2 linked regions of the Homo sapiens genome follow. The protein of the gene in region 1 purifies or fractionates together with the protein of each later gene. This does not show direct contact. Each region holds a gene or a part of one and is shown on either strand. Other genes may lie near its edges.

Region 1 (4,464 bases):
TAAAGTGCTCTTAATATCTTAGTATGAAAATTTTGTCAGATTAGCCTCTTGTTTATTTACACAACATTTTAAAATAATTTGAATATATTTTAATTAAGATCATTGAAACAAAAACAAGACATCGAAAATTTATTTGTTCCAAACTGGATTAGAAGTCTACTTACCTAAAAGAGAAATGAATTTGAAATATTAGGAGGGAGAGGAAGGTGATGTATACCATCCCTTCTAGTACTGGCAGAAATAGATAAGCTTTTCCTCCCCCCCCATTAGTTAATGTAATGGATATGAAATGTACCTTTGCTAAAACGTGTTATGCATGTCTCTTGAAGTGAATTTAGTTTATGTGCTTTTTTTTTTTAACTTGTGTTTAGTTTGTTTAGTGTTCACAAAACTTTATGCTATAAGCTACTTAAAGAACTAGCATATGTTAGGAATACAGTTATATCTATTATCTAGACAGTAGCTTTTAAAAAGTAGGAGGTGGGCCAAGCATGGTCGCCCACACCTGGAATGCCAGCATTTTGGGTAGCCGAAGCAGGTGGGTCACTTGAGGTCAGGAGTTCGAGATCAGAACTCAATCTAGCCAACATGGTGAAACCTCATCTCTGCTAAAAATACAAAAATTAGCTGGGCATGGTGGCGTGCCTGTAGTCGCAGCTACTCGGGAGGCTGAGGCAGGAGAATCGCTTGAACCTGGGAGGTGGAGGTTGCAGTGAGCTGAGATCACACCATGGCACTCCATCCTGGGCTACAGAGCAAGACTCAAAAAACAAACAAACAAAAAACACAAAAAAAGTAGTAGGAGTTGGGTGGTAAGAAATCTGTTAAGAATCAGTTTTGTTACGTATTTTTGTTGAAATTTTACCCTCTTAACTATCACTCCAAGACTTAAGTTTGACACAGAAAGCTTTTGTTGAAATTTTACCCTCTTAACTATCACTCCAAGACTTAGGTTTGACACAGAAAGCTAGACCTTAATGTACAACAGTTTCTATTTATAAAAGTAATCAAATGAACAATAATAAACAGTGATAAGCATAAACTAATAAAAGTTATATGAATGTAGTTCCTCACTCAAAATATCTTAATATTTTCAGATGTCAGTTGACCTTGGATAACTGAAGCCACAGAAAATGAACTCTTGGATAAGGGAGAGCTACTGTATTTCTTTTTTTTTTTTTGAGATGGAGTCTTGCTCTGCTGCCCAGGCTGGAGTGTAGTGGTGCCATCGTGGCTCACTGCAACCTCCACCTCCCTCCCTCAGGCTCAAGCGATTGTTCTGTCTCACCCTCACCCTCCCGAGTAGCTGGGATTACAGGTGCACGCCACCATGCCCGTCCAATTTTTTGTATTTTAGTAGAGATGGGGTTTCACTGTGTTGCCCAGGCTGGTCTTGAACTCCTGAGCTCAGGTAATCCACCTGCCTCAGCCTCCCAAAGTGCTGGGATTACAGATGTGAGCCACCGTGCCTGGCAGGAATTACTGTAGTTACCTTTTGTGTAGTTGCTGAAATTTATTATGGAACCCAAACAAAAATAATCATGAGATTAAATTTTTATGTTAGCTGTTTGGTGCATTTAATTTTTTTTTTCTTGTTTTAAATAAAGGTGGACCCCCAAAAGTACAAGGGCATATTTAACGGATTCTCAGTTACACTTAAAGAGGATGGTGTTCGTGGTTTGGCTAAAGGATGGGCTCCGACTTTCCTTGGCTACTCCATGCAGGGACTCTGCAAGTTTGGCTTTTATGAAGTCTTTAAAGTCTTGTATAGCAATATGCTTGGAGAGGTATGTAATTAACTTTAAAATTGAATGTTCCGAGTGTTTAAGACTTTCCGAGTGTTCTTAGATTTTTGTCTGTCTTGCCTTATTTTAGCACTGAAGAAAATGGTCCTACAAAGTGAGCAACTTGTTTTAAATCGTATGCCTGTGTCAGCAGAGACAGGTTGATAAATGTATTTCATTAAATTACAATTCTCCTTTTAATATACTATCTTGTTTTCTAAGTAAGTTGGATTTTGAGTTTTTTAGAGAAGGGCTCTGGGACTCCTTTGCGTAGTTCCGGGGCATGGCATCTAGATATTTTTTGAATATTCATGTTGTTCACATAGTTACGTGTTTTGTTAATGAGGTTATGAGACCACATATATATTCCATATCATCGTGTGTTACTTTATAAAATGTCTGAAGCTTAGTTGTTTTCTAGAACTGTCACTTCAATTGAAAACCAACACAACAGCAATTCACATCCCTTCCTTGTGTTTTGGATTTTAGGAGAATACTTATCTCTGGCGCACATCACTATATTTGGCTGCCTCTGCCAGTGCTGAATTCTTTGCTGACATTGCCCTGGCTCCTATGGAAGCTGCTAAGGTTCGAATTCAAACCCAGCCAGGTTATGCCAACACTTTGAGGGATGCAGCTCCCAAAATGTATAAGGAAGAAGGCCTAAAAGCGTAAGTAAACACTTAAAAATTTATACTATGAAAGTACTTATTTTAAGTGAACTTCATTTTTTTTTGTTTTTTTTTTTGTTTTGTTTTTTTGAGACAAAGTCTCGCTCTGTCACCCAGGCTGGAGTGCAGTGGCGTGATCTCGGCTCACTGCAAGCTCCGCCTCCCGGGTTCACGCCATTCTCCTGCCTCAGCCTCCCAAGTAGCTGGGACTACAGGCGCCTGCCACTGCGCCCAGCTAATTTTTTGTATTTTTCAGTATAGACGGAGTTTCACCGTCTCCATCTCCTGACCTCATGATCCGCCCACCTTGGCCTCCCAAAATGCTGGGATTACAGGTGTGAGCCACCGCACCCGGCTTCTTTTTTTTTTTTCTTTGAGACGGAGTTTTGCTCTTGTTGTCCAGGCTGGAGTGCAATGGCACTATCTCAGCTCACTGCAACCTCCGCCTCCCAGGTTCAAGTGATTGTCCTGCCTCAGCCTGCTGAATAGCTGGGATTACAGGCATGCACCACCACGCCTGGCTAATTTTGTATTTTTAGTAGAGACTCCATGTTGGTCAGGCTGGTCTCGAACTCCTGACCTCAGGTGATCCACCCGCCTCGGCCTCCCAAAGTGCTGGGATTACAGGCGTGAGACACCGCGTCTGGCTGTGAACTTCATTTTTTAGTATTAAGCCTACCAGACTTTTTAAAAAGACTATTATAACATTTAATGTCTATTTACCTGTATGTAGAACATAAACTTGAGAGGTAAAGATAAGTTAATACATGGTTTGAGCCCTGGACTGAGTTTTTTTTTTTTCCCTAGAGTAAGGACCATTTGTCGGTCTACAAATGACTTGATGTTTGGCCTAAACATTTACTATTAACTTTTAGGGAGGGCTTGTTAGTATCCTTGTGATCTATTCACAGTTAAGAATTTCCATGACCACAACATGCTTCCTTAGATCCACCTTTGTGGATGAATCTTGAACTGAGTTCCACTTGTAAACTTCTTGTTTCTTGTGGTTCCAGTAGTCAAAGAAACATCCAGCAACTTTTTTGGTTGTATAGTCAAAGGTGCTTGAGTCATTGGCATGTAAGAGAAATATACCTGCATGTTAGTCTAACGTTCTGATAGAAATGACATGCATTTATGCTGCCATTTGTTACTATCAGGACTCGACTCGTGTGCGGACATTTCTGTTAATAATGACAGTCTCTGATAGATGAGTGTATGCAACTGTGTAAAACAAGTCTCTTGATTTCCTAGATTCTACAAGGGGGTTGCTCCTCTCTGGATGAGACAGATACCATACACCATGATGAAGTTCGCCTGCTTTGAACGTACTGTTGAAGCACTGTACAAGTTTGTGGTTCCTAAGCCCCGCAGTGAATGTTCAAAGCCAGAGCAGCTGGTTGTAACATTTGTAGCAGGTTACATAGGTACGAATTACTTAGAACACACTTGTCTGAAATTATGAACAAATAATCATTTCCATTATTGGCGTTTTTTGAGAGGGAAAAATACTCCAAAGGTTATAAAGCAGTGTTTTTGTTTTTTTGGTTTCCCTGAGGCATAGTCTCGCTCTGTTGCCCAGGCTGGAGTGCAGTGGCATGATAATAGCTCACTGCAACCTCCTCCTCCTGGGTTCAAGTGATTCTTCTGCCGCAGCCTCCCAAGTAGCTGGGACGGGCATGCACCGCCATGCCCGGCTGATTTTTGTTTTTGTTTTTTGTTTTTTTTTGAGATGGAGTTTTACCCTTGTTGCCCAGGCTGGAGTGCAGTGGTGCAATCTTGGCTCACTGCAGCCTCCGCCTCCTGGGTTCAAGCGATTCTCCTGTCTCAGCCTCCTGAGTAGCTGGGATTGCAGGCGTCTGCCACTACGCCCGGCTAATTTTTAGTATTTTTAGTAGAGACGGTTTCACTATGTTGGCCAGGCTGGTCTCAAACTCCTGGCCCCAGGTGATCTGCCTGCCTTGGCCTCCCAAAGTGCTGGGATTACAGGCGTGAGCCACCGCGCCTGGCCT
Region 2 (4,293 bases), on another chromosome or scaffold:
TTACAGGCGTAAGCCACCGCGCCCAGCCCAAGGTGTCTTTTTTACAGTTAGTTTATTTGGTTCAGGATCCCAATAAAAGTCACATATTGCATTTAACTGCAATGACTCTCAAGTCTCTTTTCTTTTGAGTCCCCCTCCTTCCCTGTTTATGCCATTGATTTGTTGGATAAACCACGTCATTTGCCCTGTAGAATGTCCCACATTCTGGCTTTGGCTGAGGTCACATTGCACTATTTACATACAAACAACTGAGCAGCCAAAATTGGGGGGGGGGGCTCAGAAACAGAACAGACTTTAATAATAATAGCTAATGGCTAGGCGGCACAAACCGTGAGGCACAGGTTACATATACACCAACTCATTTTATCACACAGCTAGTAAGGGGTGGAGCCCGGCTTTAACCCTAGGCAGTCTGTTTTCACCCTCTGTAAAGGATTGGGCATGGCTGTGTTCCAAGAAAACTTTATTTACAAAAGCAGGTGGAGAGCTGGATTTGGTGCACAGATTAGATGATCCCTCATCTACCTCACAGAGCAGCTGGAAAGGAGAAATGACAGATGGCACGCTGCTCTGTGGACTGTACAGTGTGAAGCACCTGGGAGGAGCTTGGGGGGCAGCGAACATGGTAATAAACATAAAGCTCAGAGCTCCCCGCCAAGGGTGAGCGCTTCCAGACGGAGAAGTACACGGGCCGGCCAGTCAGATGGGCATGGGTTCTGATGGGGGCCCTGCCATAGGCCGCCTGGTGACCCACGCGGGGCTGCCGTTCCTTCGGGGGTTCAACGGCATGATCAAAGACACCGGGATGTGTGTGTGTGTGTGTGTGTGTGTGTGTGATGATCAAAGACACCGGGGTGGGTGTGTGTGTGTGTGTGTGTCATGATCAAAGACACCAGGGTATGTGTGTGTGTGTGTGTGTGTGTGGCATGATCAAAGACACCGGGGTGTGTGTGTGTGTGTGTGTGGCATGATCAAAGACACCGGGGTGTGTGTGTGTGTGTGTGTGTGTGACGGAGTCTCGCTCTGTCGCCCAGGTTGGAGTGCAGTGGCGTATTCTCGGCTCACTGCAACCTCTGCCTCCCAGGTTCAAGCGATTCTCCTGCCTCAGCCTCCCCAGCAGCTGGGGACTACAGGCGTGCGCCACCACGCCCAGCTAATTTTTGTATTAATCAAAGACGCATTTCAACGCAGAGGAGGAAGTGCTAGCGGACCCACCCCAAGGTGCACAGTTAGAGAAGGAGCCTCTGCGGCGGCCGGAGCCCCCCACGGACATCCCCTTGAGGCCCCCCCAGCCACACCCCCAAGAGTCCCGCCCCCAGACCCGTCGAGCGAGCTCCCCTCCCTGAAATCCTCGCCCCGAGATCTCCGGCCGGCGAGCTCCGCCCCCTGAAGTCCCCATCCCAAGATCCGGGGCCGGCGAGCTCCGCCTCCCGAAGTCCCCGCCCCCAGATCCCCGGCCGGCGTGCTTTGCGGCCGCCCTGCCGCGCGCACATGTAGGCGTTCCGAGCGGCGGCGGAGGTGAGCGCACGGACGAGCGGGAGGGACCCTTCTCCGGCCTGATGCGACCCGGTAACGCGTTCAGACTGCGGAGTAGCCTAGGGGCCCAGAGTGGAAGCGTAGCGAGGACCCCTCTGCGGGGCTCCTGCAGCCCCTCCTCCCCCAGCCACCGGCGGGCTGCATGGTACTGTGTTCTAGGCCCACCCCGCAGCGCGATGGCCCTAGGGACGTTGGACTTTGGTCCAGACCTTTCCTTTCTTAGCCTCACTTTCCGCATTGGGAAAAAAAAAAAGCCCGAATGATAATGATTCTTATAGGAGTTCTTGATTAAGATAGGCCAAGCGGTACCCTGCGTTTTTGTTTGCGGCAACTCATTCGTTGCTCATTAAGCACTTTTCACGGACAGGAATACAGTAAGTTTCAATCAAAGTGAAATAATTGTGAATTTTTACTGACGTATTCACGGATGAAGTGATAGGATGCCCGGGGATGTTTCAAAATAAACCAGTTGGACGGAAGTGTGGTGGAAAGAGAAATCAAACAAGATTGGCCATGAGTTGATGGGATTGAAGTTGATGGATGTACTATTTTGTCTACTTTGGTATATGCTTGTAATTTGGCATAACAAGTTTTCTAAAACAAAAAGTTTGCTGTGGACACCTGACTATGCCTGTGTTAGCTTGCTAGAGCTGCCATGCCGAAGTACCGGAGACTGGGTGGCCCAACCAGCAGAAATTTGTCCTCTGGGAGTTATGGAGGCTGGAAGTTCAAGACCAGGGTGTTAACAGGGTTGGTGTCTTCTGAGACCTCCCTTCTTGGCTTGTAGGTGGTAGCCTTTTCCCTGGATCCTCACATGATCTTCCTGCTGTGCCTGTTTGCATCCTAATCTCTTCTTATAAGTACACCAGTCAAATTGGATTAGGATCCATACTGATGGCCTCATTTTATCTTAATTATCTCCTTAAAGACCCTGTCTCCAAATACAGCCACAGTCTGAGGTACTGGGGGTTAGGACTTAAATATATGAACTGGGGAGGAGGAGGAGACACAGTGCAGCCCATAACACTGTCACTTCACTAGCTTAGGATTTTGGCCATTTAAGTTTTCACAGCTTTGAAATAGGGTTAGCTGTAGTAATTAGGTCATGGGGTTGTGAGGGTTCAATCGGTAAGAGTGCTCAGAACTGAGTCTAGCATATAGTAAGCACTCAATAAATTGAACACGTTTTTCCTTATAAATTAGTAATCATAGGGCTTTACCATGGGATGAGTGGAATGAGGCAGTTGGAGTGCCGTGCCCAGCGATGGGAATAAAAGTCATTACAGCCATTATTATAAGGAATATCTGCTGCTGTGCCAGACACTAAATGTTTTATGTATGTTTATTCATGTGCTCATCACCGCCACCCTAGAGGTGGGCCATTACGACACACCTGTTTGGCACATGGGGAAATTGACGCACAGAGACGGAGCTGGGATTTGAACACAGGCACTCTGGCTCTAGAGCCCACACTCTTCACCACTATGCTGTGTTACTTTGGTTTAAAAAGGTGGTGTGGACCCTGGAGGATGTTCAGTCTGCAGGCTGACCCAGGGAAACTGGCTGACTTCTCTTTTTCTTGGCCCAGATTGTCCGCAGTGACTACACTCATGGCAGGTCCCCTGTGGCGGACCGCAGCATTTGTGCAGAGACACAGGACAGGCCTCTTGGTGGGTTCCTGTGCAGGCCTGTTTGGAGTTCCAATCTCGTACCACCTCTTCCCGGATCCCGTGGTCCAATGGCTCTACCAGTACTGGCCTCAGGGCCAGCCAGCTCCGCTCCCTCCACAGCTGCAGAGCCTCTTCCAAGAGGTGCTACAGGACATAGGTGTTCCTTCAGGCCATTGCTACAAGCCCTTCACCACCTTCACCTTCCAACCTGTGAGTGCAGGCTTCCCAAGACTCCCTGCTGGGGCTGTGGTGGGCATCCCTGCCAGTTTCTTGGGAGACCTAGTGATCAACACTAACCATCCCGTGGTCATACATGGGCATACAGTGGACTGGCGGAGCCCAGCAGGCGCCCGGCTGAGAGCTTCCCTGACCTTGTCCCGTGAAGCCCAGAAGTTCGCCTTGGCCAGGGAAGTGGTGTACCTGGAAAGCAGTACCACTGCCGTGCACGCCCTGCTGGCCCCAGCTTGCCTGGCAGGGACCTGGGCACTGGGCGTGGGTGCCAAGTACACCCTGGGGCTCCATGCAGGCCCCATGAATTTACGGGCTGCCTTCAGCTTGGTGGCAGCAGTGGCAGGCTTTGTGGCCTACGCCTTCTCCCAGGATTCTCTCACTCATGCCGTGGAGTCCTGGCTGGACCGCCGCACGGCCTCCCTCTCTGCAGCCTATGCCTGTGGTGGAGTGGAGTTCTATGAGAAGCTTCTGTCGGGCAACCTGGCCCTGCGCAGTCTCTTGGGCAAAGACGGGGAGAAGCTGTATACACCCAGCGGGAACATCGTCCCCAGACACTTGTTCCGAATCAAACATTTACCCTACACCACCCGCCGGGACTCTGTGCTGCAGATGTGGAGGGGGATGCTCAATCCGGGCCGCTCCTGATGGGCTCATCACAAGGACACTTCCAGCTTGTGCAGACACCACCCTGCCATTGAGTCTGGAGGGCCCTGTTGGAGCCTTTGGACCTATAGCTCACGGCCAGAAAAATCACTGGCTTTGGAATTAAATAGCTTAGATTGTACTATAACCACTACTTATGAACTCAGGGACTATGAGGGACTATTCAGGGGCTATGAATCTGAGCCTTTGTTTC

Evidence for each region. The genes of interacting proteins can lie anywhere in the genome.
Region 2: the proteins of SLC25A3 (region 1) and TMEM177 fractionate together in Homo sapiens (co-fractionation; one large-scale study listed by BioGRID). This does not show direct contact.

The regions. Positions count from the first base shown.
Region 1 is NC_000012.12:98,596,249-98,600,712, forward strand, and holds part of SLC25A3 (solute carrier family 25 member 3 isoform b precursor), read left to right. Parts: intron 1-1,607; coding exon 1,608-1,787; intron 1,788-2,273; coding exon 2,274-2,455; intron 2,456-3,386; exon of another isoform or gene 3,387-3,636; intron 3,637-3,706; coding exon 3,707-3,879; intron 3,880-4,464. UniProt on the Homo sapiens protein: Inorganic ion transporter that transports phosphate or copper ions across the mitochondrial inner membrane into the matrix compartment. Mediates proton-coupled symport of phosphate ions necessary for mitochondrial oxidative phosphorylation of ADP to ATP.
Region 2 is NC_000002.12:119,677,708-119,682,000, forward strand, and holds the start of TMEM177 (transmembrane protein 177), read left to right. Parts: upstream 1-1,493; 5' UTR 1,494-1,569; exon of another isoform or gene 1,570-1,910; intron 1,911-3,124; 5' UTR 3,125-3,146; coding exon 3,147-4,082; 3' UTR 4,083-4,293. UniProt on the Homo sapiens protein: Plays a role in the early steps of cytochrome c oxidase subunit II (MT-CO2/COX2) maturation and is required for the stabilization of COX20 and the newly synthesized MT-CO2/COX2 protein.